Homo sapiens: one gene and its partners. The protein of the gene in region 5 purifies or fractionates together with the protein of the main gene of each other region. This does not show direct contact. Each region holds a gene or a part of one and is shown on either strand. Other genes may lie near its edges.

What was found.
Region 1: the proteins of RNF115 (region 5) and IL36RN purify together in Homo sapiens (affinity purification with mass spectrometry; one large-scale study listed by BioGRID and IntAct). This does not show direct contact.
Region 2: the proteins of RNF115 (region 5) and SERPINA3 purify together in Homo sapiens (affinity purification with mass spectrometry; one large-scale study listed by BioGRID and IntAct). This does not show direct contact.
Region 3: the proteins of RNF115 (region 5) and ACP7 purify together in Homo sapiens (affinity purification with mass spectrometry; one large-scale study listed by BioGRID and IntAct). This does not show direct contact.
Region 4: the proteins of RNF115 (region 5) and IL36G purify together in Homo sapiens (affinity purification with mass spectrometry; one large-scale study listed by BioGRID and IntAct). This does not show direct contact.
Region 6: the proteins of RNF115 (region 5) and DSG3 purify together in Homo sapiens (affinity purification with mass spectrometry; one large-scale study listed by BioGRID and IntAct). This does not show direct contact.
Region 7: the proteins of RNF115 (region 5) and CTSV purify together in Homo sapiens (affinity purification with mass spectrometry; one large-scale study listed by BioGRID and IntAct). This does not show direct contact.

What each region holds. Positions count from the first base shown.
Region 1 is NC_000002.12:113,061,851-113,065,468, forward strand, and holds the end of IL36RN (interleukin-36 receptor antagonist protein), read left to right. Parts: intron 1-273; coding exon 274-401; intron 402-602; coding exon 603-827; 3' UTR 828-2,894; downstream 2,895-3,618. UniProt on the Homo sapiens protein: Inhibits the activity of interleukin-36 (IL36A,IL36B and IL36G) by binding to receptor IL1RL2 and preventing its association with the coreceptor IL1RAP for signaling.
Region 2 is NC_000014.9:94,611,206-94,615,190, forward strand, and holds the start of SERPINA3 (alpha-1-antichymotrypsin precursor), read left to right. Parts: upstream 1-1,185; 5' UTR 1,186-1,242; exon of another isoform or gene 1,243-1,334; intron 1,335-2,141; exon of another isoform or gene 2,142-2,164; intron 2,165-2,830; exon of another isoform or gene 2,831-3,034; intron 3,035-3,228; 5' UTR 3,229-3,236; coding exon 3,237-3,879; intron 3,880-3,985. UniProt on the Homo sapiens protein: Although its physiological function is unclear, it can inhibit neutrophil cathepsin G and mast cell chymase, both of which can convert angiotensin-1 to the active angiotensin-2.
Region 3 is NC_000019.10:39,086,995-39,091,065, forward strand, and holds part of ACP7 (acid phosphatase type 7 isoform 1 precursor), read left to right. Parts: intron 1-4,071.
Region 4 is NC_000002.12:112,976,355-112,980,945, reverse strand, and holds the start of IL36G (interleukin-36 gamma), read right to left. Parts: upstream 2,941-4,591; 5' UTR 2,868-2,940; intron 2,327-2,867; 5' UTR 2,308-2,326; coding exon 2,253-2,307; intron 1,726-2,252; coding exon 1,621-1,725; intron 938-1,620; coding exon 798-937; intron 1-797. UniProt on the Homo sapiens protein: Cytokine that binds to and signals through the IL1RL2/IL-36R receptor which in turn activates NF-kappa-B and MAPK signaling pathways in target cells.
Region 5 is NC_000001.11:145,764,661-145,768,731, reverse strand, and holds part of RNF115 (E3 ubiquitin-protein ligase RNF115), read left to right. Parts: intron 1-4,071. UniProt on the Homo sapiens protein: E3 ubiquitin-protein ligase that catalyzes the 'Lys-48'- and/or 'Lys-63'-linked polyubiquitination of various substrates and thereby plays a role in a number of signaling pathways including autophagy, innate immunity, cell proliferation and cell death.
Region 6 is NC_000018.10:31,467,892-31,471,962, reverse strand, and holds part of DSG3 (desmoglein-3 preproprotein), read right to left. Parts: intron 2,875-4,071; coding exon 2,614-2,874; intron 1-2,613. UniProt on the Homo sapiens protein: A component of desmosome cell-cell junctions which are required for positive regulation of cellular adhesion. Required for adherens and desmosome junction assembly in response to mechanical force in keratinocytes.
Region 7 is NC_000009.12:97,032,348-97,036,401, forward strand, and holds part of CTSV (cathepsin L2 preproprotein), read right to left. Parts: intron 3,347-4,054; coding exon 3,181-3,346; intron 2,497-3,180; coding exon 2,379-2,496; intron 702-2,378; coding exon 602-701; 3' UTR 1-601. UniProt on the Homo sapiens protein: Cysteine protease. May have an important role in corneal physiology.

The DNA of each region.
Region 1 (3,618 bases), on a different chromosome or scaffold from region 5:
GAGGGGGTTGAATCTATTTTGGGGTGTAGAGGCTTGAAGATTTGACCCTGAACTAGAGGGTGGAGTGGAGGTGGTACAATGTGCTTCCATGCCTTGATGTCCACTCTGAGCCAGTGGACAGGAGAAGCCATGTCATGACAGCTGCTGAGAAGCCTCCCTTCTGCCCAGCCTGGGGGCAGGCCGTCTTACAGCAGTCCTGTGCCCTAGAGCCCAGGACAGGGGAAGAAGGAGGGAAAGGCATCCAGGGCCCTGCATCTGGCCTCTTTCCCACAGGTGAAGAGATCAGCGTGGTCCCCAATCGGTGGCTGGATGCCAGCCTGTCCCCCGTCATCCTGGGTGTCCAGGGTGGAAGCCAGTGCCTGTCATGTGGGGTGGGGCAGGAGCCGACTCTAACACTAGAGGTGAGACTTGGGGCATCCTCACTGGGGACTCAGCCACAGATGCTGAGCCTACTGAAGCCGGGCAGCCCACAGCCCTGGTGCTGTGGGACACCCTAGCAGGATTCTGTTGATGGCAGCTTTGCCTCCTCCCTAAGGATCCTGCCCAGCCCTCCCTCTGCCCCTGCTTCTGCCCTCACCTGACCTCCCCTCCTCTGCCGGCAGCCAGTGAACATCATGGAGCTCTATCTTGGTGCCAAGGAATCCAAGAGCTTCACCTTCTACCGGCGGGACATGGGGCTCACCTCCAGCTTCGAGTCGGCTGCCTACCCGGGCTGGTTCCTGTGCACGGTGCCTGAAGCCGATCAGCCTGTCAGACTCACCCAGCTTCCCGAGAATGGTGGCTGGAATGCCCCCATCACAGACTTCTACTTCCAGCAGTGTGACTAGGGCAACGTGCCCCCCAGAACTCCCTGGGCAGAGCCAGCTCGGGTGAGGGGTGAGTGGAGGAGACCCATGGCGGACAATCACTCTCTCTGCTCTCAGGACCCCCACGTCTGACTTAGTGGGCACCTGACCACTTTGTCTTCTGGTTCCCAGTTTGGATAAATTCTGAGATTTGGAGCTCAGTCCACGGTCCTCCCCCACTGGATGGTGCTACTGCTGTGGAATCTTGTAAAAACCATGTGGGGTAAACTGGGAATAACATGAAAAGATTTCTGTGGAGGTGGGGTGGGGGAGTGGTGGGAATCATTCCTGCTTAATGGTAACTGACCAGTGTTACCCTGAGCCCCGCAGGCCAACCCATCCCCAGTTGAGCCTTATAGGGTCAGTAGCTCTCCACATGAAGACCTGTCACTCACCACTATGCAGGAGAGGGAGGTGGTCATAGAGTCAGGGATCTATGGCCCTTGGCCCAGCCCCACCTCCTTCCCTTTAATCCTGCCACTGTCATATGCTACCTTTCCTATCTCTTCCCTCATCATCTTGTTGTGGGCATGAGGAGGTGCTGATGTCAGAAGAAATGGCTCGAGCTCAGAAGATAAAAGATAAGTAGGGTATGCTGATCCTCTTTTAAAAACCCAAGATACAATCAAAATCCCAGATGCTGGTCTCTATTCCCATGAAAAAGTGCTCATGACATATTGAGAAGACCTACTTACAAAGTGGCATATATTGCAATTTATTTTAATTAAAAGATACCTATTTATATATTTCTTTATAGAAAAAAGTCTGGAAGAGTTTACTTCAATTGTAGCAATGTCAGGGTGGTGGCAGTATAGGTGATTTTTCTTTTAATTCTGTTAATTTACCTGTATTTCCTAATTTTTCTACAATGAAGATGAATTCCTTGTATAAAAATAAGAAAAGAAATTAATCTTGAGGTAAGCAGAGTAGACATCATCTCTGATTGTCCTCAGCCTCCACTTCCCCAGAGTAAATTCAAATTGAATCGAGCTCTGCTGCTCTGGTTGGTTGTAGTAGTGATCAGGAAACAGATCTCAGCAAAGCCACTGAGGAGGAGGCTGTGCTGAGTTTGTGTGGCTGGAATCTCTGGGTAAGGAACTTAAAGAACAAAAATCATCTGGTAATTCTTTCCTAGAAGGATCACAGCCCCTGGGATTCCAAGGCATTGGATCCAGTCTCTAAGAAGGCTGCTGTACTGGTTGAATTGTGTCCCCCTCAAATTCACATCCTTCTTGGAATCTCAGTCTGTGAGTTTATTTGGAGATAAGGTCTCTGCAGATGTAGTTAGTTAAGACAAGGTCATGCTGGATGAAGGTAGACCTAAATTCAATATGACTGGTTTCCTTGTATGAAAAGGAGAGGACACAGAGACAGAGGAGATGCGGGGAAGACTATGTAAAGATGAAGGCAGAGATCGGAGTTTTGCAGCCACAAGCTAAGAAACACCAAGGATTGTGGCAACCATCAGAAGCTTGGAAGAGGCAAAGAAGAATTCTTCCCTAGAGGCTTTAGAGGGATAACGGCTCTGCTGAAACCTTAATCTCAGACTTCCAGCCTCCTGAACGAAGAAAGAATAAATTTCGGCTGTTTTAAGCCACCAAGGATAATTGGTTACAGCAGCTCTAGGAAACTAATACAGCTGCTAAAATGATCCCTGTCTCCTCGTGTTTACATTCTGTGTGTGTCCCCTCCCACAATGTACCAAAGTTGTCTTTGTGACCAATAGAATATGGCAGAAGTGATGGCATGCCACTTCCAAGATTAGGTTATAAAAGACACTGCAGCTTCTACTTGAGCCCTCTCTCTCTGCCACCCACCGCCCCCAATCTATCTTGGCTCACTCGCTCTGGGGGAAGCTAGCTGCCATGCTATGAGCAGGCCTATAAAGAGACTTACGTGGTAAAAAATGAAGTCTCCTGCCCACAGCCACATTAGTGAACCTAGAAGCAGAGACTCTGTGAGATAATCGATGTTTGTTGTTTTAAGTTGCTCAGTTTTGGTCTAACTTGTTATGCAGCAATAGATAAATAATATGCAGAGAAAGAGAAACAAATGCATTTGTTTTATTATTGCAATTTTCTCCAATATTTTTTATTTTCTTTCTCACAATGAACAACTATCCTTCATTTACCCAAATATTCTATTTAAAAGCTAATAATACAGCATTTGTTGAGTCATCTGGTTCTGCAAGATTGAGATCCTCTTGTCCTATGTGCCAGGAATGAACTCCAGTGTCCCCACCCAAACCCTGGGGAATGGGAGCAGAAGCCAGAGGAGGAGCCCATATCTGAGCCCCAGGTATTCCACCTGCACTTCACCTGTTGGACCAGCTTGGTGGTTGAGAGTCCACTGAGGCACTGGCAAGGAGGTGGCCAGGACAGACAAGGCTGCCTCTATGGACCTCACAGCTCCAGCCCAGATTCAGCTGAAGTCCTCAGGCAACAGGCAGCACAGCTCCTACCCCAGGCCTCTCAGGGCTGCCAAGAACATGAGCTCCGGATGCTAGGCTGTGTTTCAGACCCTGTTCACACTCTCTTTGTCCATGGGCCCAGACACAGTCTTGTGCTGCTCCCTCTGCTTTTGGGTCCTCCATCCATCCTCTCTGCCTAGATAAATCTCTCATCTTTCAATACCCTGCTAAGATGTCACCTCCTCCAAGAAGCTTTTACTGAGTTGAGACACCCCCAGCTATCTGATCTGGCAATGTTTGTATGCACCTCCCTGCACTGTAGTACCTTAACTTGGAGTCTGTGGCCCCTGGGATGACCTTAAG
Region 2 (3,985 bases), on a different chromosome or scaffold from region 5:
AGGTGGTCTGCCCACGTCAGCCTCCCAAGATGCTGGGATTACCAGCATGAGCCACTAGTCCCGCCCAGGATTTTTTTTTTCCTTTTTCATGAGCCAAAGAAAGACCCCAGACTAGCTAAGAGAGAGGCCCAAGGATACCTGAAGGCCGGGGAGGAGGGACAACCACTTGTTGGGGTGAACCAATCGCAGAGGCTCAGCAGGACAGAGGCCAAGGCTGAGGAGGCCCCCACAGAGAAACAGAGCCTGAGGACAAGGGGTTCCTCACAACACCTGTGCTCCCCGAAAGCTCCCCTCCACACCCCTCTCTAGGTGCCCTACTCTCTGGGGTTGGTGAAGGGGTGCCAAAAATGCAAACTGATCCACAGAAAAATAGAGTCCTGTATTTTAAAAATATATCTAGGTTTGTATATGGACATTCACATCACACAGACACACAGACACACATGCAGCCACACACACACACACACACAGAGACACCAAAGAAAAGTGCTTTAGAAATACACCAAAATGTGGCTGGGTGCGGTGGCTCATGCCTGTAATCCCAGCACTTTGGGAGGCTGAGGTGGGCAGATCACGAGGTCAGGAGTTCAAGACCAGTCCGACCAACAAGGTGAAACCCTGTCTCTACGAAAAATACAAAAATTAGCTGGGCGTGGTGGTGTGTGCCTGTAGTCCCAGCTACTCGGGAGGCTGAGGCAGAAAGTTGCTTGAACCCGGGAGTCAGAGGTTGCAGTGAGCTGAGATCACGCCACTGCACTCCAGCCTGGGCAACAAAGCAAGACTCTGTCTCAAAATAAAAATAAAAAATAAAAAGAAATAAAAAAGAAATATACCAAAATGTTAGCTGGGGTCTTCTCTGGGTAGTAAAGTGCTGGGGGATATTTTCCAAAGTCCTTCTTTACATTCTCTGAGTTTTTCCATGTTCTTCAATGAGTATTTAATAAGCAGATAAAAACTAATACAACAAAGGATTTTTTCTGTGTGCTTTTTTGACCTTTGGAGGAAGAGATTAGAGCTAGTCCCATAACCAGGTTATTTGAGTAGGTCTAACAAGCCCGTATTACCAGAAATTATCATCTGGTCATTTCCAGTCCGAGAACAGAACACTTGGTTGTCCTGGCATTTCCCAAGCAGGGGGAGGAGTTCTCTGCAGGAATAAATAAGCCTCAGCATTCATGAAAATCCACTACTCCAGACAGACGGCTTTGGAATCCACCAGCTACATCCAGCTCCCTGAGGCAGGTAATCCATGATGTTTTACATCCTGGGAGCGGAGGAATCTGTTTTTCCAGGAGAGTTTTAGGCAGCAGCCTGGAGTGTGTGGAGTGTGAGGGGTAAGCAGAGGCCAGGAGGAGGTGTACTCAGGTGTTAGGGGCCAGGGGTCTGTTCTTGGCTGCCACTGATTCCCTGTGCCTTTTTTAGAGGCATCCTCTGTGTCTGGGTTTTCACACCTGCAAAGGGTGGAGGTGCCCTGGGGCCTCTATGGTCATTTCTGCCTTGATACTTACAGATTCGGATTTGAGTCAGCTGTGCATCTGACCCTCAGGGAAGAGGTGCTGTCCCCTTGCCTGGAGCAGGGTGCAGCTCTCAGAACATGTGGCAGATGTGATTATTGCAGCAGGTCCCTCTGAGCAGAGGCCACAGGCCTCACCATGATTTCAGGGTCTCCATGGGGCTGCCTCGGGAGCTCCACTTCCCCAAAAGGACCCCTGGCCAAGTCGACAGATGGGCTGTGTCTCTGTCCAGCAACAGAAAAGACAAACTGCTGGGAAACAGCCAGCCCTCCAACTTGCCCAAACAGAAAAGACAAGCCTTTGCCCCTGAAATAATTCTGGAGAAAAATATTGTCTAACATTTATCCAGAGAAATGATTGCATCAGCCTGAGAGTGAACAGTTGAAGCAAACAAGGTGCCTCTGTCCCTGGGCTTGGCCAAAGGCATTTCCACTGGCCTCCCCTCCTTCCCCTCCTTCCCCTCCTTCCCCTCCTTCCCTTCCTTTCCTTCCTTCCCTTCCTTCCACTCTCTCTTCCCCTTTTCTTCTCCTCTCTCTACCCCTCTCCCCTCCCCTCCCTTCCAATCGCCTCTCTTCCCCACTCTTCTCCCCAGCACCCAAGCTGCCCCTTTTCTCTTCTGAATTCTAGGACTGAGTGGGCGGAGGCTGAAGGTGAATAATCTTGTTTGCTGCGGTCACCGGCTTGGAACTCAGCCCTTCCAGGGTCTCTTGTGCAGTAGCTCATGGCTCTTCTCTGGCTTGTAGTTTCAGGAAAGGGGTAGTATGGGAGGTGGTGACTGCTCGGTACGTCTAATATGAACCAGGTGCCTTCATCATTTATCTCACCTGAGCCACTTAACAGGTTGTGCAGAGACGGAAACAGGTTGAGAGATGTACAGTCACCTGCTTGCCAGTACACAGCAATCAAAAGTGGCCAAAATAAAATCCCAGTCCAAGTCTGGGAGACTCCAAAGCCCTCTCTGCCTTCTCCCCACTAAGAGGCCCTTCCAGGCTTATGGTGGACACAGACACCACGTGGCAACCTGGCAGGGGCAGAGAAGAACATTTGCCTTTCTTTGGTCTTGCTGCCAACCATTATCAGGGCCATCGAGGCTCCAGACACTGTACCAGGGACTTTCATTTCCCTCTCTCAGTCGACCCTCACTGCCACCCAGCATCACATCGTGGAGGCCTGTGGAGGCCACACCACGTGACATCTAGAGGCTGGGAGAGTCACTGTGGCCTCTATCTCTGCCCAGGGCTCCTTCATCCCTGGGTTCTACTTTGGTGGCAGTTGGGAGAATGAAGGAAGGGAGCCCCTGCTTTCTAATCCCCTAGGATGAGATCTGCTCACCAAGCAGGAGAGGAGCAGGCATTCTGATTGGACTGAACCTCGGACCCCCCATCAGCTTACAGACCGAGGAGCCAGGCAAACCTGGCTGCCCACTGGGCTCCTTTACCTGTTTGCTGTATGATCTTGGGCAAGCCCCCTCACCGCTCTGTGCCCGGCTTTTCCACTGCAAGAAAATGGCAACAATTATGGTACCTACCTCAAAGGGTGAAATGAAGCAGAGTGATGTGTGTCGGGTGCCCCAGAGAGCACCTACCTGAGGGAGGCTCCAAAGCTAGCAAGAGGCAGCAGGACAGGGACCAGGACGCAGGCTGGGTGGAGGGCAGTGGGAGGTGGTCGGGGCTCCATCTGGCCCTCTGAGACTTAAAGGAGCTTTGCTTTTCAGAGTTGAGAATGGAGAGAATGTTACCTCTCCTGGCTCTGGGGCTCTTGGCGGCTGGGTTCTGCCCTGCTGTCCTCTGCCACCCTAACAGCCCACTTGACGAGGAGAATCTGACCCAGGAGAACCAAGACCGAGGGACACACGTGGACCTCGGATTAGCCTCCGCCAACGTGGACTTCGCTTTCAGCCTGTACAAGCAGTTAGTCCTGAAGGCCCCTGATAAGAATGTCATCTTCTCCCCACTGAGCATCTCCACCGCCTTGGCCTTCCTGTCTCTGGGGGCCCATAATACCACCCTGACAGAGATTCTCAAAGGCCTCAAGTTCAACCTCACGGAGACTTCTGAGGCAGAAATTCACCAGAGCTTCCAGCACCTCCTGCGCACCCTCAATCAGTCCAGCGATGAGCTGCAGCTGAGTATGGGAAATGCCATGTTTGTCAAAGAGCAACTCAGTCTGCTGGACAGGTTCACGGAGGATGCCAAGAGGCTGTATGGCTCCGAGGCCTTTGCCACTGACTTTCAGGACTCAGCTGCAGCTAAGAAGCTCATCAACGACTACGTGAAGAATGGAACTAGGGGGAAAATCACAGATCTGATCAAGGACCTTGACTCGCAGACAATGATGGTCCTGGTGAATTACATCTTCTTTAAAGGTGAGTGTGCCTGGCTTGGGGTTCAGAAGAGGTGGATCTCAGGGCCATTTCTGTCCTGACTCAACAATGGTGTTATTAGGCAAACCACTGTAGAGGAGAGTGCCCA
Region 3 (4,071 bases), on a different chromosome or scaffold from region 5:
TTTAAAAATCTTTTATTTATTTATTTATTTTTGAGACAGGGTCTCGCTCTGTCAACCAGGCTGGAGTGCAGTGGCACAGTCTTGGCTCACTGCAGCCTCTGCCCCGCAGGGTTCAAGTGATTCTCCCACCTCAGCCTCCCGAGTAGCTGGGATTACAGGCACCCACCACCCCATACTTGGCTAATTTTTGTATTTTTTATACAGATGGAATTTCACCATGTTGCCCAGGCTGGTCTTGAATTCCTAAGCTCAAGCGATCCTCCAGTCTCGGCCTCCCAAAGTGCTGGGATTACAGACATGAGCCACCGCGCCCCGCCTAAAATCTCTTTAGTATCTGGTTTGGTAACTGACAACTGGATTCTCCTCAGATCTGTTTTCATTTTAGTCTGTTGTGATTTGTTGTTTTGGATTTTGCCTGTGAAGAAAATCTGTTCTTGCACAGACATGTGGTTGAAACAGGGAGAAAAGTTGCTTGTTTTTTGACACAGGGTTTGGCTCTGTCAGGGTTTGGCACTGGAGTGCAGTAGCACAAACATGGCTCACTGCAACCTCAACTCCGAGACTCAAGCGATCCTCCCACCTCAGTCTCTTGAATAGCTGGGACCACAGGGGCATGACACCATGCCCAGCTAATTTTGTTTTTTTTTTTTTTTTTTTGAGATGGAGCCTCACTCTGTTGGCCAGGCTGTAGTGCAATGGCATGATCTTGGCTCACTGCAAGCTCCACCTCCTGGTTTCAAGCGATTCTCCTGCTTCAGCCTCCCAAGTATCTGGGATTACAGGCATGCACCACCACACCTGGCTAATTTTTGTATTTTTAGTAGAGACGGGGTTTCACCATGTTGGCCAGGCTGGCCTCGAACTCCTGACCTCAAGTGATCCACCCACCTCTGCCTCCCAAAATGCTGGGATTACAGGCGTGAGCCACCGTGCCTGGCTCTAGTCCTACTCTTTTCTATCTGTGCCAGTTCCTCAGTCATTCCTTATCTTTCCTTGTTTTTCATGTCTTTTACATCTTCAAAGAAGATAGTTTCTTCTTTTTTTTTAGATAGGGTCTCACTCTGTCACCCACGCTGGAATGCAATGGCGCAATCATAGCTTACTGCAGCCTCTAACTTCTGGGCACAAGTGATCCTCCTGACTCAGCCTCCTGAGTAGCTGGGACTACAGACGTGCACTACCATGCCTGGCTAATTCTTTTTATTTTTTGTAGAGACAAGGTCTCACTATGTTGTCCAGGCTGGTCTCAAACTCCTGGGCTCAAGTGATCCTCCCACCTCAGCACCCCAAAGTGCTGGGATGACAGGGGTGAGCCACCATGCCCAGCAGAGAGAGGGTTTCTTAAAGGTTAGTTGCAATGTGGAATCAGAAACCACATGAATGAACTGGCTTGGCATTTGCCAGCCTAGTGACCTTGGACAAAGCGCTTTGCCTGGAGGCCTCTGTAAAAATGGGAAAGGCAGTAAAAACCCATCTCGTAGTGCTGCTGTGACAATCCAGTGAGATCATGGCTGTCCTTTTTCAGCCTACACAGTAACAATGGCAAATACACTCTTATAAGTGCTTTAGACGGATAACTCATTTAACCTGGTATCAACCTTAAGCTGTAGGTACCATTGCTACTCCCATTTGACAAGAGAGACTCACAGCAGGGGAAGAGTCTGACCCCAGTTCACACAGCCTGGGAATCTGAATGCCGGCAGGCTAGCTCAGAAGCCCACGATCTTTGTGGGTTTGTTTGTTTGTTTGTTTGTTTGTTTGTTTGTTTTGAGACAGAGTCTCACTCCGTCGCCCAGGCTGGAGTGCAGTGGTGTGGTCTTGGTTCACTGCAACCTCTGCCTCTCAGGTTCAAGGGATTCTCCTGCCTCAGCCTCCCGAGTAGCTGGGACTACCAGCGCGCATCACCATGCCTGGCTGATTTTTGTATTTGTATTTTTGCATTTTTTTTTTTTTGAGTCGTAGTCTCACTCTGTTGCCCAGGCTAGAGTGTAGTGGTGAGATCTTGGCTCACTGCAACCTCTGCCTCCCAGGTTCAAGCGATTCTCCTGCCTCAGTCTCTCAAGTAGCTTGGACTACAGGTGCATGCCACCACACCCAGCTAATTTTTGTATTTTAGTAGGGACGGGGTTTCACCGTGTTGCCCAGGCTGGTCTCGAACTCCTGACCTCAAGTAATCTACCCACCTCGGCCTCCCAAAGTGCTGGGATTACAGGCATGAGCCACTGTACCCGGCCCCTAATTTTTGTATTTTTCAGTAGAGATGGGGTTTCACCATGTTGGGCAGGTTGATCTTGAACTCCTGGCCTCAAGTGATCCACCCGCCTCGGCCTCCCAAACTGCTGGGATTACAGGTGTGAGCCACCATGCCCGGCCTATTTTAAAACTTTTAAATTTTGTACTACTTTTGGATTTAGCAGAAACATTCCAAAAATATTACAGAGTTCCTGTCTCCCCTCACTCAGTTTCCCCTGATGTTAACATTTTACGTAACCATGAACAATGATTAAAACTGAGAAATCAAGATTGGTACAATCCTGTTAACTAAACTACAGATCTCATTTGAATTTCACCCGTTTTTCTACTAATGTCCATTTCCCCTTCCAGAATCCGATCCAGGATCTCACATTGCATTTAGCTGTTGTGCCTCCCTAGTCTCCTCCCATCTATTAGTTTCTCAGTCTTCCCTTGTCTTTCATGCTCTTGGTATTGCCGAGTACCGATCAGCTATTTTGTACAGTATCTCTCGTTTGGGATTTGTCTGATACTTTCTCACCACTGGAATTAAGTTATGTATTTTTGGCAAGACTATCATAGATATGATGTTGTGCCCTTCTTGGCGCATGATACGAAGAATCAAGATGTGGCTGTGACTTATTGCTGTGACTTATTGATGTTGACCCTGATTGTTTCATTAAGGAGGTGCCTGCTGGGTTTCTCCACTATAAAGTAATTATTCTTCCCTTTGTAGTTAATAAATATCTTGAGGGAGATGGCTCAAGACAATGCAAATCCCATTTCTCCTCAATGTTTGCTCACTAATTTTAGCATCTTGTTAAAAGATCCTGCTGATAAGTGGATCTTATCGGCAACAATTAGTGTGGTATTTGCCTAATGGTGATTTTCTAATTTTCTAATGCCCTCCTTCTTTTTTTTTCTTTTTAAATTTTATAACCTTTGTTTTGTTTTGTTTTTGAGACGGAGTCTTGCTCTGTTGCCCAAGCTGGAGTGCAGTGGCGCAATCTCGGCTCACTGGAACCTCCACCTCCCAGGTTCAAGCAATTCTTCTGCCTCAGCCTCCTGAGTAGCGGGGATTACAGGCGCACGCTGCCATGCCTGGCCAAGTTTTTGTAATTTAGTAGAGACGGGGTTTCACTGTGTTGCCCAGGCTGGTCTTGAATTCCTGAGCTCAGGCAATCTGCCTGCCTCATCCTCCCAAAGTGCTAGGATTACAGGCATGAGCCACTGTGCCCGGCCAATAACTTTTAATTAATTAATTAATTAATTTTGAGACAGAGTCTTGCTCTGTCACCCAGGCTGGATTGCAGTGGCGCGATCTCAGCTCATTGCAACCCCTACCTCCCGGGCTCAAGTGACCCTCATCACTTCTGCCTCTTGAGTAGCTGGGACTACAGGGATGCACCACTATGCCTGGCAATTTTTGTATTTTTGTAGAGACAGAGTTTCACCATGTTGCCCAGGCTGGTCTGGAACTCCTGGGCTCAAGCAATCCACCTGCCTCAGCCTCCCAAAGTGTTGGGATTATAGATGTGAACTACTCGCCCAGCCTTCCCACTTCTTTTTTTTTTTTTTTTTGGTCTATTGTTCCTATTCAATATAGTAGCTCCTTCCATCTAATTGAAATTTTATTATAAGAAAGAGCTGTCCCTCCCTGCTCCCTTTATTACTTTATTCAATGATTTATTTACATCATGGACTCATGGATATCCATTTTATTCCATGGGTGAAAAATCTGATGTTATGATTGTCCCAGATTTGGTCTCTCAGAATTCCTTCAGATTGCGTTCTGTGTTCTTACAACAAGCCTCCATCATTTGTGAGCACTTCCTCACT
Region 4 (4,591 bases), on a different chromosome or scaffold from region 5:
CCCTTCTAGTTTTGAGAGAGTTCCTCTTGGCTCCCAGGAGGAGGGATTCTCTGACTTTGACACACATGGCCACCTTGGCAGAAAAGCCTTGTGGTATGGAAAATAAATTCATTTTTATGTCCTCTTCTCCCTTTCCATCTTTCAGCATAGATTTAACTCCTTTAAGCCAGACATCTGTTGGGACCTGGCCCTCAATCATTGGTTACCAGTATGTCAGGCACTCTGGACTTTCCAGTGATGCCACTGAGATGGCACCTGTCAAAAGAGCAGTGGTTCTGTTTCTAGATCGTGGATCTTCAGATAAATTCTACCATTTTCATTTCACTTCCTGAAAGTCAGGGTTGGCTTGTGAAAAGTTTAAACCACATGCTAAATGTGAAATGTCAACTCTCACTCTAAACTCTCCCTGTTCAGAGCATCAGATGAAGACTTCATTGAGTTTTATAGTGGCTTTCTGATTTTTGGTAGTCCTTTGAACAAGGGAGTTTGAAGTTTGCTGCATACTCTTAACAATTGTCTGCCCATATCCTGCCTGAAATACCATGAATGTTTATGGAAAGTATCTTTAATAAAGCTGGATGCAGTTTGGCTTGGAAAAAAAAAAAGCAAAACAAGGACCTTAACTACTGACAGCCAGAATAAAAAGAAAAGTGTATTGCATGCACATAACTTAAAAGAGGCTGGGAATAAATATGCTTAGGAAGATGAGACTATTTCTTTTTTAATTCTAAAATTAGGTATTCAACCAAACACTTCTAAAAGGAAAGGCTTTTTAAATATTTTTCTTAGCTACTCACTTTTAGCTGCAATGTGGGCTGTTCTCCAACCTTCTCACAATACAAACACATTTCTGGATTCTGGATTCCCAAATAAATGGGATCCCCTCTGCCTTGCTCAAGAGCCTCTGGATACTTGCATGTGATAACAGCAACAGTGACTGTAAAGATAAGAGGAGAGATGGTATCAGTTTCCTTTTGAAGTCAGAAAGATTATTTGATTTAGCAGGGCAGTATCCTCAAGTGGATCTGGAAGAGAGCTGAAGAGTGTAATCCCAACTAGACCCACCAAATGGCCAACCCCCATATTCATTCATTCATTCATTCATTCATACCATGTGCCAATCACTGCCCTAGTAAATGAGCAAACACAGAGAGCTAAGCAGACAACAGAGTATGCTCTTGAGATTCTCACGCCTCTGCTTGAGCACATGGAGATGGGGAGCTCCTACATCAAGCAGCCCCTCTGATTCTTGGAGAGCTTGGTCCCTTTTGCAAGTTTTTCCCAATGTGATGCTGAAACCTGCCTTTCTGTGGTATTCACCCATTTAGTCATTTTAGGACACCCTGAAGTCATGCAGAACAAGCTACTAGTCTTCCATAAGACAGGGCTTCAGATGACTGACAGCAGCTTTCCTATTCCCTTGGAGGCTCCTCCACCATCTCTGGCTTCTTCATCTTAGTGGAACCCAAAGTTCTCCCTGACTTCTCTTCCCAATTAGGTGTGAAATTCTCCCCACTCCTGGTGGGCCCCATTGTAAAGTCACACTTTTACAAAAGGCTGATGCCAGCTTCCCAGCCACAGCAGTGCAAACAGTGGGGAAGGCACAGGGTGACCACTCACCTGGGGTCACACTGTCACTTCGTGGAACTGCCACAAGGTTCTGACCCTGAAGGGTCCACACTTGCTGATTCAAATCATTAATAGTCCCAGTAATAGGTTTACACACTGATTTTGGGATAGAGAAAAAAATGAAGAAATATTATAATCAAGGCTGCTTTACTAGACCCAGGAGAAAAGTATCTAACCCAGGCCATTTTGTAAGGAAGGTGTGGGGTTTGCATCCCCAAACTGACAGCACTCACATCACCCATCAGCCTAGCCTTTCTTTCTAGTGAAGTTGTGAGCTCTGGTGAGGAAGGCAAGGGCTACCAAGGGAAGTCACTGGTTTAAGAGGGCAAACTATCAAGACAGAGGGCAATGAGCAGTCTCACAGAACCTGTGTGCCAAGGCCCAGCTACCCTCTTTTGTGCCTACTCTGTGCTTGGCCCCGGTGCTGGGGACTGGAGCTGGATCAGTGACTAAGCAATAGCTCCCACCCTCCAGAAGCCCAGGGCCCAGTGGTAGGTGGGCAGCACCAGGTGGGAAGGGCAGTGTACAGAGAGGAGCAGAGAAGGCTGGGGCTTCCACAGGAGATAGCGTGAGTGCAGAGGGCCTAAGCCTCCAGAGCCCCATCCCAACAGCATTTGATTCACTTGATTGATAGACGGCCCTTCCTCCACCATCAGCGTCTCCTGGAGTGCCTCTCATAGTGTGGTTGTCTCAGCACCTGTGAAAGCAGACATAGAACAGATGAACCACAAGAGATGTTTCCAAGACCTTCCAGGACACTAGCTCCACAGGCCCTCATTCTAGACAGGGAGCTGGGAAACCTGGCCTGACACGAAGCTCTGGGCAGAAGTTCTGAGCCACATCTGGGACGAAACTTGAAGGAAGCATCAGCAAAGGGAGAACAGGTAGAATTTTCCTCCACCTGGAGATCCAGATAGTATGGTAGTGTCTCCCCTAGGAGTTCGAAGGCCAGGCATAAAATTTGACCTTAAATAACCCACAGGCACCTGATGCCCTGACTCCTCTTCTCTGAAGCCTCCACCCCTTCATCGGCATTGTTTTTGCCTAGGAGCAGGGGAGGGTCCCATGCCAGGGCCACTCTGCCAGGATCCCAGCAACTCCCCAGTAAGAAGCAGCCACACATAGGACAAAGCACAGAGCCAGCCTGATGTGGCCCTTCCCTTCATTAAGCCCAAAGCACAGATGAGAGGAAAGGCTCCAGAGGGAGGGAGAAGAGGTTTTCCAGCTATTGACTATACCTGGCAAGAAAGGGTCTTTATCTACAGTCCAGGGGACTGAATCGTGGCTCCAGCAGCTTCCAAGGTCAGTGATGGGTTCTAATGGAGCCTGGATCATTTATCTGGATGAGCAGAGAAGGAGGCTCCAGCTTCCTGGGTGGGGCATGAGAAACGTATGACATGAAAGAAAACCAGCTCCTCCTACCAGAAGATCCTGTGAGGCTCGGAGGAAGAAATCACAGAATTAGCACAAGTATCACCTGTCCGGGCTCGCTGAGAAATAAGTGTTGAGCCAATCCGCACAAAATCAACCACAAGGAAATGAGGTTGATGACAGATCCTAGGTTTCTCATAAAGGGGAAACTAAGGGAATTTCCCAGAGTTCAGCTCTCCTGTCATGTCATTCTAGAGCTAGAACTGGAAATGCCAGGCACTCTCATGTCAGGGACTCCATCTCCTGGGACTGGGAGCCTTGCCCTCTGCAGTCAGGCTAAAGGCATCCTGTAAGAGCAAAATTAGCCACACGTCTCAGGCAAGGTCCCTGTGGCATTTCTCAACTACCCCACCTAAGGCCACACCTGAATGGAAAGCCAGGCAGTAGAGCTCCCCTACCTAACACTCTTTCAGCTCCATCCACATGGGGAGCCACAGGGACTATGCAGACTGGTCTTTTAACTGAGGCAATCCTAGTTTCAGGTACCCTCAAAATGCAGTGGACTCCAGAACTGCCTAAGGAAGTAAAGAGGTGGGCAGCGATTTCTCCCAAATCTGAGCCCCAGATGCCAGCTTATCCCCCACCCTCTGCCCTAGGTTCCTGATCAGTGGTAATAGTTATTTTTATATCTTGTTTATACACCCCATCCTATCTGCTGTAGCCAAGCCTAAAAATTTACTGAGGTATAAGTTAACTACTAGAGTGAAGTGAGTTTTAGGAGACAGACTTGAAGCACTAACAGCTTCAGGTTTACCCATCTATAAGGAAGAAAAGCACAAAGAATGAGACAGAACCTTCCAGATAAGCTCATCCATGAGCCCCTCTTCCCAGCCCTGCAAAGAGTCTCCTGACTCAACGTCTCTTACTTTTCACCCTAATCTCCTTTCTGGCCTTGGAAGAACACAGTCCTTTCCTGCCATGGCCCCAATTCTATCACTTTTGGCTTCCAGTGTTTCTGTGACCCTAGGAAAGAGTGTGGTAATGCCAGGTGCACTTTTGTTCAAAGTCAACCTGAGCCAGTGCCACCTCACTTGAGTCTCCATTGCCCTGTTAAAAATCCCCTCCATTACACATCAGTCAACATAACTCCTTTCTTGGGATGTTCACCACAAAACAGCATCTAAAATTCCCATCATTTGACCCCCCAAATCCCTTAAGCCTGAATTTCCAACTGGGATCCCTCTGAAAGCAGAATCCATGCTAGGAATTGCAAACAAAGGGAATTGAATAAAAGGAACTAGATACACGTGTGTTGGAAAGCCAAAGAAGATTAAGGGATTGCTGTGGTATCTCAGATAGTAACAACTACAGGAAGGAAACAAAAGGGAACAAAAGAACCTAGGTCTCAAAGGAGCGCTTTTGTAGGACTTATCCCCAGATATGAGTCGGAGGTGAGGCGTTCTCTGCCAAATTGATGCTCAGACCTCTGAAAAGAGAGTACAGTCTGGTCAATGCTTGGAGCATGAAGGTGGAGGGGAGGGGTCAAGAAGAGGATGCTCAGAGGACTCACAGGACACAGCTCTAACAGCTG
Region 5 (4,071 bases):
TGTCCTCTTGCTTTGAGAAGGAGCATATGGGCATTCCACTTATGGTTTCCATGGGCTGCATCTCAGATTCCTGTTCATTCTACGGGTTTCACTGTAGACAGAGTACTTTGTATTTAATGGCCGGGTGCGGTGGCTCACACCTGTAATCAGCACTTTGGGAGGCCGAGGCAGGTGGATCACTTGAGGTCAGGAGTTCCAGATCAGCCTGGCCAACATGATGAAATCCCATCTCTACTAAAAATCCAAAAATTAACCAGGCATGGTGGCGGTTGCCTGTTATCGCAGCTACTCAGGAAGCTGAGGCAGGAGAATCACTTGAACCTGGGAGGTGGAGGTTGCAGTGAGCCGAGATTGCGCCACTGTACTCCAGCCTGGGCGACAGAGCAAGACCTCATTTCAAGAAAAAGAGTACTTTGGCTGGCGCCAACAGGGTCCAGGTCTGTGCCTGCCATTGGAGAGGATGCCACAGCCACAGGGGTGGGCGCTGGCCTGGAGGCCTCCAAGGGGCATCTCCTGTGAGCCCAGGGGATGGGCAGGATCTGAGCGGAGAAGAGTGAAAGTGGAGGAGTGAGGCCAGAACAAAGGCTTTGCCGTGAAAGAGGTGGTTTCCCGCCTAGGCTCTGACCTTCACTCACTGTGTGGCCCAGGCCAAGGGCAAGCGTCTGACCTCGCTGGGCCTTTGTTTCTCAGGGGTAAGATGAAACAATGGCTCCCTCTCCCTCTCCCTCTCCCTCTCCCCACGGTCTCCCTCTCCCTCTCTTGCCATGGTCTCTCTCTGTCTCTGATGCCGAGCCGAAGCTGGACTGTGCTGCTGCCATCTCGGCTCACTGCAACCTCCCTGCCTGATTCTCCTGCCTCAGCCTGCCGAGTGCCTGCGATTGCGGGCGCGCGCCGCCACGCCTGACTGGTTTTCGTATTTTTATGGTGGAGACGGGGTTTCGCTGTGTTGGCCGGGCTGGTCTCCAGCTGCTAACCGCGAGTGATCCGCCAGCCTCGGCCTCCCGAGGTGCCGGGATGGCAGACGGAGTTGCGTTCACTCAGTGCTCAATGGTGCCCAGGCTGGAGTGCAGTGGCGTGATCTCGGCTCGCTACAACCTCCACCTCCCAGCTGCCTGCCTTGGCCCCCCAAAGTGCCGAGATTGCAGCCTCTGCCCGGCCACCACCCCTTCTGGGAAGTGAGGAGCGTCTCTGCCTGGCCGCCCATCGTCTGGGATGTGAGGAGCCTCTCTGCCTGGCTGCCCAGTCTGGAAAGTGAGGAGCGTCTCTGCCCGGCCGCCATCCCATCTAGGAAGTGAGGAGCGTCTCTGCCCGGCCGCCCATCATCTGAGATGTGGGGAGCGCCTCTGCCCTGCCACCCCGTCTGGGATGTGAGGAGCGTCTCTGCCCGGCCGCCCCGTCTGAGAAGTGAGGAGACCCTCTGCCTGGCAACTGCCCTGTCTGAGAAGTGAGAAGCTCCTCCGCCGGGCAGCCACACCGTCTGAGAAGTGAGGAGCCCCTCCGCCCGGCAGCCACCCCGTCTGGGAAGTGAGGAGCGTCTCCGCCCGGCAGCCACCCCGTCCGGGAGGTGAGGAGCCCCTCCGCCCGGCAGCCGCCCCGTCTGAGAAGTGAGGAGCCCCTCTGCCGGGCCAGCCGCCCCGTCCGGGAAGGAGGTGGGGGGGTCAGCCCCCTGCCCTGCCAGCCGCCCCGTCCGGGAGGTGAGGGGCGCCTCTGCCCGGCCACCCCTACTGGGAAGTGAGGAGCCCCTCTGCCCGGCCAGCCACCCCGACCGGGAGGGAGGTGGGGGGGTCAGGTCAGCCCCCCGCCCGGCCAGCCGCCCCGTCCGGGAGGTGAGGGGCGCCTCTGCCTGGCCGCCCCTACTGGGAAGTGAGGAGCCCCTCTGCCCGGACAGCCGCCCCGTCCGGGAGGGAGGTGGGGGGGTCAGCCCCCCCCCCCCCCCCCCCCCGGCCAGCCGCCCTGTCCGGGAGGTGAGGGGCGCCTCTGCCCGGCCGCCCCTACTGGGAAGTGAGGAGCCCCTCTGCCCGGACAGCCGCCCCGTCCGGGAGGGAGGTGGGGGGGTCAGCCCCCCGCCCGGCCAGCCGCCCCATCCGGGAGGGAGGTGGGGGGGTCAGCCCCCCGCCCGGCCAGCCGCCCCGTCCGGGAGGTGAGGGGCGCCTCTGCCCGGCCGCCCCTACTGGGAAGTGAGGAGCCCCTCTGCCCGGCCACCACCCCGTCTGGGAGGTGTACTCAACAGCTCATTGGGAACAGGCCATGATGACAATGGCGGTTTTGTGGAATAGAAAGCGGGGAAAGGTGAGGAAAAGATTGAGAAATCAGATGGTTGCCGTGTCTGTGTAGAAAGAGGTAGACATGGGAGACTTTTCATTTTGTTCTGTACTAAGAAAAATTCTTCTGCCTTAGGATCCTGTTGATCTGTGACCTTACCCCCAACCCTGTGCTCTCTGAAACATGTGCTGTGTCCACTCAGGGTTAAATGGATTAAGGGCGGTGCAAGATGTGCTTTGTTAAACAGATGCTTGAAGGCAGCATGCTTGTTAAGAGTCATCGCCACTCCCTAATTTCAAGTACCCAGGGACACAAACACTGCGGAAGGCCGCAGGGTCCTCTGCCTAGGAAAACCAGAGACCTTTGTTCACTTATCTGCTGACCTTCCCTCCACTATTGTCCTATGACCCTGCCAAATCTCCCTCTGCGAGAAACACCCAAGAATGATCAATTAAAAAAAAAAAAAAGAAAAAGAGTACTTTGTATTTGTATTTAAGAAATCAGATGTCAGAGATTAGCCTTTGTGGGATTATTAGTGTGTTCCTCACACCAACTTAATAAGTTTCCCTGAAATGAGGTCCATTTTCTTTGACTTTTTCATTGGCATGAGTAAAACTTTTTTACTAACACAGAGACAGGGAACTCTCACATTGTTCATTCATTCTGCAAATATTTATTCAGTGTCCCTAAAGTATGTGCTTTATCCTCTAATCTGCAGCTTTTGAATGATAGTTAATTAGGTCTTGAATAGACTAGCTCATCTTATCTGACTTTAAGTGCATCTGACCTGTGCCAGCAGATTAATTTATAAATTTATAACTGAGGGTATTCTGTTTCAGTGACTATAAAACTCATTTGTTTGTTAGCATACTCTTGTCTTTGAATTTCTCAAGTATCAAGAAATCAAAAGCAATCAGATGGTTGTTTAGTACATATAGAATCAGCAAGGAAATTGCATGATCTTTAAGAGAAATTCCATCCAGATTGTGATAAATGCTAAGGAATTACTCATATTTCACTTCAAATAATTTTTTTTTAATTTTTTTTTTTTTTATTGATCATTCTTGGGTGTTTCTCGCAGAGGGGGATTTGGCAGGGTCATAGGACAATAGTGGAGGGAAGGTCAGCAGATAAGCAAGTGAACAAAGGTCTCTGGTTTTCCTAGGCAGAGGGCCCTGCGGCCTTCCACAGTGTTTGTGTCCCTGGGTACTTGAGATTAGGGAGTGGTGATGACTCTTAACAAGCATGCTGCCTTCAAGCATCTGTTTAACAAAGCACATCTTGCACCGCCCTTAATCCATTTAACCCTGAGTGGACACAGCACATGTTTCAGAGAGCACAGGGTTGGGGGTAAGGTCATAGATCAACAGCATCCCAAGGCAGAAGAATTTTTCTTAGTACAGAACAAAATGAAGTCTCCCATGTCTACTTCTTTCTACACAGACACAACAACAATCCGATTTCTCTATCCCTTCCCCACCTTTCCCCCTTCTCTGTTCCACAAAACCGCCATCGTCATCATGGCCCGTTCTCAATGAGCTGTTGGGTACACCTCCTAGACGGGGTGGTGGCCGGGCAGAGGGGCTCATCACTTCCCAGAAGGGGCGGCCGGGCAGAGGCACCCCCCACCTCCCGGACGGGGCGGCTGGCCGGGCGGAGGCACCCCCCATCTCCCTCCCGGATGGGGCGGCTGGCTGGGCGGGGGCTGGCCCCCACCTCCCTCCTGGATGGGGCAGCTGGCCGGGCGGGGGCTGACCCCCCACCTCCCTCCCGGACCGAGTGGCTGCTGGGCAGAGACGCTCCTCACTT
Region 6 (4,071 bases), on a different chromosome or scaffold from region 5:
TGATTATTGCATTTATTTGCACATGTTGGGGCTATGTATATTGTGTCAGGTGAATACACAGATAAATATATGACCAGAATGGTCCAGATTTTAGGTGGGCACGATGGTGTTTTGGTAATCTAGTCTCTAATTATCTCTCAGTAAACAGTAATTAACCAGAAAACTCCCTCAGTAACTAGGGTGATAGCCTAATCAATGGCTGTCAATGCATTCTTAATTGTAATTTAAGAATTTCTTAGTTGTGGCTTAAGCTTGGAGGACTCTTCTGGCAGCGTAAATATCTTTCTGTGCACATCCTTGGCAATAAAGATTAATGTCATTCTCATGTGAACTGACCAAGAGTGAAATACTTATTCTTGAAAGCAGGTGTTTCCCACACTTTGTTGTCAGTGGCCCCACTGCCACCTCTGCCCTGCCAAGGCCACCTGAATCCTAATGTTTCAACTCTCTTCACTTAGAGGCAGCTTAGTGAGGGGTTTAAGCATGCAGCCTCCGAAGTCAGATTCTAGGGTTTAAATTTCGGCTGTACCACTTAACAGCTATGTAATGTTGGGCATGTAATATCATCCTTCTTTGCTCAGTTAACTCATCCATAAAATGGGGGAATAAATAGTATCTACATCATAGGTTGTTATGAGGATTGAATTAATATAGGTAAAGGCCCAACTCCTTAATACTATTTTTTTAGGGTTTAAGTTTCAACATATGAATTTTTTTGGGGGGACACACACATTCAGACCATAACAATTAATCTCCCAATCCTCTCCAGGGGCCACTGTAATGCACTGCACACTTGTCCTTTATTTTCCAGTCTCATGTCACAGCTCGAAATCTGACCTTCATCATCTCTCTTGAACTTTTACAATGACCTCTTAAGTGTTCTTTCCTTTCTAATTTACACTGTTATACTGTACACACTGTTGCCAGGGTTGTCTTTCTAAAATACAAATATGATCATGTTAGTCTTTTATTCAAATGCTTTTAGCAGCTCCTCTTTCTCATAGGATAAAGTACAAACACCACAGCATGTGTATGTAGCCCTTTCAAATTAGTCCCAATGCATTCTCTGTTGCTCCTTCACTTTCCACAATTTCCCCGCGCTTTAGCCTTCGAAGGCTGTGTGATTCCTAAAACAGAAAATACTAAGTGTTTTCTGGCCTTGGCTGATGCTGTCAATTTTTGGAAATGCCTTTTCCATTTTTTATACTGATTATATCCTAATCATTCTTCAAGGCTCAATTGAATGATTCCTCTATTCCGTGAAATGTTCTGTAATTACCCCTTTGTAGTAATTTCTATTACAGCTTTATCATGGTATTTTTCCCCTATAGTTAGACATGCATGAAAACCAAAATCAAGTTTCCTTTTCAGCTAGAAGCTAGCATAGTGATTCACATAGAGGTACTTAAAAATTTCTGGTTCTTGAACTTGATTAATACGATATTGAAAAACCAAATCTCTGAGTGTCAATTTCAGCTCTTAAACTAAATGGTGTATAATAACTTTAGAATAGTAAATGCTTTTGGAGAATAAGGAAGGGAAAAATATAGCATGTGTGGCAATTAGCTGTATCTATAGCAATTTATTTCTTTTTAAAAAAAGGGACCTGAAAAAATATTGCAAAACATTCATATCTGTTCAGTTGAAGTGATGGTTGTATGTGTAGTTGTCTACACATTTTCTCTACTTTTTGTGGTTTTAAAATTAATAATCATATAATTAATTTTAACTCTAAAACTGTGATTTTTATAATAAATTAAGAAAGTGTGAATTTAGCAAGGATTTCTCTTGTTTATACAAGAATTAGTCAGGAAGTTCTTTTAAATAGAGACCTCTTACAATCAAATACTATTTGATTTATATGATTTTGATTCAAATACAACTTTTCAGAAACCTATCTATTGAATAAATTTTACCTTTATTGGAAAAGGATACTTACGCATAGTTTTCTAAATGTGTTTAATAAACTTAGTTATATTAAATGTGAAAGTATTAAAGGGGATGCATATTCAGATGGCAATCTATTTTGAGGAAATGCTAGATGAAGCAATAACTTCTCAGAACCTAGCTATCTTAATAGCATATGATATTAATATTAATATCATATGCTATTGATTAATATTAGTGGGGGTTAATTAATTAATTAATATTAATAGCATGTGGTGATATCTTAATAGCCTATGATACCCTATTTGTATTTCCCTAACTTTGTTTGACTAGTGTTCTCTTTTTATCTTAGAATCTCATGAGATGTAATGAATATAGAGAAAACATCTTAGAAAGTGCCACACTCTTGGATAAAGCCATAATTTTGACCATGAACATTACTAACAGTGTGTAGAAAGTCTTCATGATTTGCTTTTCTCTTGATTATCTTGTGCTGTCTTCTAAATGTCTGACATATATAACTTGTGTTGCTATATGAATATAGACTGTTAGCAAGCGACATGTTACACATTTCAGATTCTTTCTGAAAATGCCATTTTCCCCTAGCTTTACCTATAAAACATCAGAGAATATTCTTTCCCCATTGCACAGATGAGCAGGGCAGCATGGAGGCCTTTGCAAATGAGGACACCTGGTCCAACAGAGAATGAAACATTGGCTACTCACACAGCAGCAGCAGGAGACCAAGGAGCAGCAGGCCGATGGCGGCAGGCCCCAGCCTCCCTGAGTGCGGCCTGCCATACCTGGTCCCAGGGCTTGTGGTTGGGTAAGAAGTTCCACAGATGCCCCTGTTGTCACACTGACAGACTTCCAGTGTCAAGCTGCGTGGCATCTCACACCGATTGTTCTGACTGTCTGTAAGTACCAGGGAGATGTGGTATACTCCAGGAGGTATCTGTTCCTGGGCTCTGAGGAGGGCCGAGGTAGCTGTAGAGAAAGAATCATGCAAATCAACAGTAGGACGAAGTGTCTTTTCAGTCTATTTTGTGTTGCTATAACAGAATATCACAGACTGGATAATTCATAAAGAAAACACATTTATTTCTCACAGTTTTGAAGGTTGGGAAGCTCAATATCAAGGTGTCAGAATCTGACAAAGGCCTTTGGACTTCATCATCCCACGGTGGAAGGTGGAAGGACAAGAGAGCATGAGAGCACGTGGGGGCTGAACTCACCCTTATAACAACTCACTCTTACTGTAATGAACCCACTCCCATGGTAACACCATTAATCCATGCATGAGGACAGAGCTCTCATGACCTCATTTCCTCTTACAGGTCTCACCTCTCAACACTACTGCAGTGGGGATTAAGTTTTCAACACATGAGCTTTGGAAGACCTATTCCAACCACAGCAGTGTCTTACACTCTTACTACTTATTTTCATTAGCAGAGTTAGTTGCCACAAACAATAGGGTTGATAATAGAGTGATGTTTGAGCAGTGATGAGGGCTATAATGGGTTCAAGTGGGTAAATCTGTCTACACCTGCCTCCTTGTCCTCTCTGTTGCAGGTAGGCCAATTATTCTCTCCCATGAAACTCAGTTCTACTCTGCTTTTCCCACTAAAGAAGATGGGCGACATCATTTAGAGTCAGGTACTCCTCTTCTGGGGCTTAACCACTCTCTTGTATGTCTGCACCAATCCTTGGACTTGTGTGGCCCTTTGAGTGTTAGTGTTCCTGACTTTGTGTTCTTGTGTTTTACTTATCAAGACTTTCAACTTTGGCTGCTACTACCTCAAGTGCTCTTCCTGGTTCTTATCCCGTGAGCTGCAGGTCTATGATATGGGATTTCCTTGTGGTGATGGCCTATTGCCTATCTGAGTCCTGAGCATAGACTGTTTTCTATCTCCCATTGCTATGTTGCCTTTTTAAAGTGGATCCCACGACAGTTCTTGTAAGGTTCAGCATTGCATTTGTTGAATCTTTTTGATCCCACCATATCCTTTGACATTGTGCCTTGCCCACCTAGTCCAATCACTGTTGCCTTGCCCAGCCACACCTGGGCAGGTATGTCTTGTGACACATCCCGGCCCTCTCTGATCTTTCTTTGGCAGCCTCTTCATTGGCCACGTATCCAGTAAACTCATTTGGAGCAAAATGCTACATGCACAGTTTGGAGAT
Region 7 (4,054 bases), on a different chromosome or scaffold from region 5:
AGATCACACTACTGCACTCCAGCCTTGGTGACAGAGTGAGAGAGACTCCGTCTCATAAAAAAAAAAAATGTAGGTTTGTCCTTCCAAATTGTTTATCAAATTTTGGTAGATTCAGGAGTTGGGTAACACACAGTAACTGGGCAGCTGATATAAAGTCTGTATTTTTATAACTACTCAAGAGCCAGGAAGCCAGCTTTCTGCTAGCATCTTTCTCCTAACATACCATTGGCACATGAAGTTATTATTTCAGAGCTTAATTATATTTCCTGACTACACAAAAAGCCAATGCATTAAAAAAAGGCCCACCTTTATATACGAATTAAAATTTATTTCAAACTGTTTTGTACATCTTTTTAAAAAATGAAAATTCAAAAGTCTTAGAATTAAGCAATGAGTCTTTGATATCATAAAGCTGTGTATAACAATAATTAAAGTAGTGGTAACATTTTACCCTTGTAAAAATGTCACAGAATTAAAATCTCAACTTGGATCCTCAATGATTCAACTGGTTTATCTTACACAATAAGCGTTTGGTCAGTTTCAAGATAAAATTTCCCCAGACATGCTGTCCTTAAGTCCTTCCTCCTCACCATCCATCAGCTCACACATTGGGGTAGCTGGCTGCTGTGGCGATTCCACAGTGGTTGTTCTTGTCTTTGGCTATTTTTACATAGCCATTCGAGCCCCATTCTGGACCCCAGCTGAAAGAGGAGCAGGTTTTCCATTTTATACAAGGAATCAAGGGAAAATTGGCTCCATTAATAATAATAGCTAATACTTAAACAGTGCTTCCCATGTGTCAGGCACTATTCTAAATGCTGTTAATATCCATTTATAAATGTCCTGAGGCTGGGCACAGTGGCTCACGCCTGCAATCCCAGCACTTTGGGAGGCCGAGGTGGGCAGATCACTTGAGGTCAGGAGTTTGAGACCAGCTTGGCCAATCTGGTGAAACCTCGTCTCTATTAAAAATACAAAAATTGGCCAGGTGCGGTGCATGCCTGTAATCCCAGCACTTTGGGAGGCTGAGGCGGGTGGATCACCTGAGGTTTCAGGAGTTTGAGACCAGCTTGACCAACATGGTGAAACCCTGCCTCTACTAAATTAAAAAAAAAAAAAAAAAAAATTAACCGGGCATGTAATCCCAGCTACTTGGGAGGCTGAGGCAGGAGAATCATCATTTGAACCCAGGAGGCAGAGGTTCCAGTGAGCCAAGATTGCACCACTGCACTTCAGCCTGGGCAAGAAGAGCAAAACTCCATCTCAAAAGAAAAAAACAAACAAAAAAACCCCCATAAAAATTGGCCAGGCGTGGTGGCGCATGCCTATAGTCCCAGCTACTTGGGAGGCTGAGGCAGGAGAATCACTTGAACCCGAGAGGTGGAGGCTGCAGTGAGCCGAGATTGCACCACTGCACTCTTGCCTGAGTGACAGAGCAAGACTCCATCTCAGAATAAAATAAAACTGGCTGGGCACGGTGGCTCATGTCTGTAATACCAGTGCTTTGGGAGGCCAAGGCAGGCGGATCACATGAGGTCAGTTCGACAGCAGCCTGGCATACATGGTGAAACCCCGTCTCTACTAAAAAATACAAAAAAAATTAGCTGGGTATGGTAGCACATCCCTGTAGTCCCAGCTACTTGGGAGGCTGAGGCAGGAGAATCACTTGAACTCAGGAGGCAGAGGTTGCAGTGAGCTGAGATCGTGCCACTGCACTCCAGCCTGGGTGACAGAGCGACACTCTGTCTCAAAAAATAAATAAACAAATGAATGAATGAATATATTGATTCTTGTGGGTCCTTAACTATTTAAGATACTGAGGCAGAACTGGAATTCCACTGTAGCAGTCTGTCCCCACATACTACCTTATGTCACATCTCAATTAAAGAATGCTAATTGTGAGAAAATAGATTCTGACAACCTTCAAAGCCTGAGAGCTGGGGAGTGAAATTCGATGACAGGGCATCCAATGACAATAGAAGGATGCACACAGACCACTGGACTCCCGGATGATCTCTCAGACTTAACAAAGAACCAGCAGAGGCAGATGTTTCTGCTTACTATTCCTTGTTGAAAAATTAGACAGAAAAAAGCAATCAGCTCTCAAACCTACAGGTCCACAGTCCTTTGTCTGAAACCCTTGAGGACTAATGTGTTTCAGAATTTAAAAATTTTCAAAACTTAGTAATAAAATATTACAAATACATAGCAATAACTCCAAAAAGCTTGGTACGGAATCTTATAATCAAACATTAATATTTCTGTGTTCACTCTAAGTAGAAGAAAGACTTTCGGAATTTTGAAATTGAGCTTTTGTGAACTTGTATCCAAATACTGATTTGGAACAAAAATTCCCTTTTCAATTTTGAGTTTTATACCTGTTTTTGACGAGCCAATACTTGCTGTTATTCGAATTTGCTCCTTCAAAGCCGTAGCCAACCACCAGAACACCATGATCCAGGTTTTTGCTGCTGCAGTCTGGTTCAAAATAAATGCCTGGGAGAGTAAAATTAATGCTGGGGTGAGAAGCTCCAAGCGACATGTGACAGTAACCCACCCTACCACCCTCCATAAGGGAGGCATCTCTAAATTCAGTAAAATGTCATAAACAAATGCCAAATAAGGACCCAAACAATATTGGCCGGAAAACAGTAATGGCTGATAAAGGAAAAAAGTCAACCTCAACTCACTAGAAATCAACTAACTTCAACTAAGTTCAAGATATTTTCTACCAAAAAAAATGAAAATCCAAAAGATAAAACCTATTGTTTACAGCTAAGGTGATTTAGATATCTCTGAGCCCAAATACCAACTCGCATAATCCCTTTCTGTTCCTAGGATGTCAGTCTAAAATAGCACCAAAATAAACAAACAAAAACTTGAAGGGGATTCTTTACAGTCCTAATTACAGTAGTAAAAAACTTTGAGAAAAAAAGGCCCAACAACTGGAAAATAGTTTGGAAAATTAGGTTGTCTCTATACAATTACATAGCCATTTAAAAATATTTATGAGAAGTTTAACATAACTAAGTATTTTCTCATGTCAAATGCAAACATCACTATGTTAAATGCTCACTCTCAAAATACTACATTCCTGCAAAGCAGGATGTCATATCCAAGAATCAATCACAGTGATGCTTCCCAATTCTGCCTAAATTTCTATAATAAAATGACACTTACCTGATTTGTAGAACTGGAAGGACGAATGGCCTGCATCCATAGCAACGGAGATGGGCCCCACAGTTGCGACTGCTTTCATCAGGGCCTTCTCCTTTCCAGGTGCGACCACTGTGAAGCCAGTGTCATTAGCAACAGAATTCTCAGGTCTGTACTTACAGATTTCATCCTTTTAAAGTTAAAGGGGGAGAGACTTGATCACTACCATCTACCTCCTGGGGAACATTAGTTCTAGAACCGAAACACTCAGCAATTTGCAACCTAGGATTTCCAAATCAACACCCTTATAAATCGTCCCATGAAATAAAATGCTATTTGTTGATTTGAAAATGAAAAATTAGTTGACATTTCTTCAATGAGAACCCCTAGGTCAATCTGTCCATAAAAAATTTTTCACAATGGATAAAGTTCTATTATATGTAGAATGGTTTGCTTATTCTCCATGTTATGTAAAAGCAAGAACAGCTGTGTGTTAACCATCTAATGGTACTTATATGGTAACCATTAGCTGTTGACCATCTCACCAGAGAACTGTGCAAAGGCTAATAATTTTTTTTTTTTTTTGAGATGGAGTCTCGCTCTGCGGCCCAGGCTGGAGTGTAGTGGTGCGATCTTGGCTCACTGCAAGCTCCGCCTCCCGGGTTCACGTCATTCTCCTGCCTCAGTCTCCTGAGTAGCTGGGACTACGGGCACCCGCCACCAGGCCGGGCTAATTTTTTTGTATTTTTAGTAGAGACGGGGTTTCACTGTGTTAGCCAGGATTGTCTTGATCTCCTGACCTCGTGATCCGCCTGTCTCGGCCTCCCAAACTGCTGGGATTACAGGTGATCCACCACGCCTGGCCAAAGGCTAATAATTTATAATGACAATACTCACG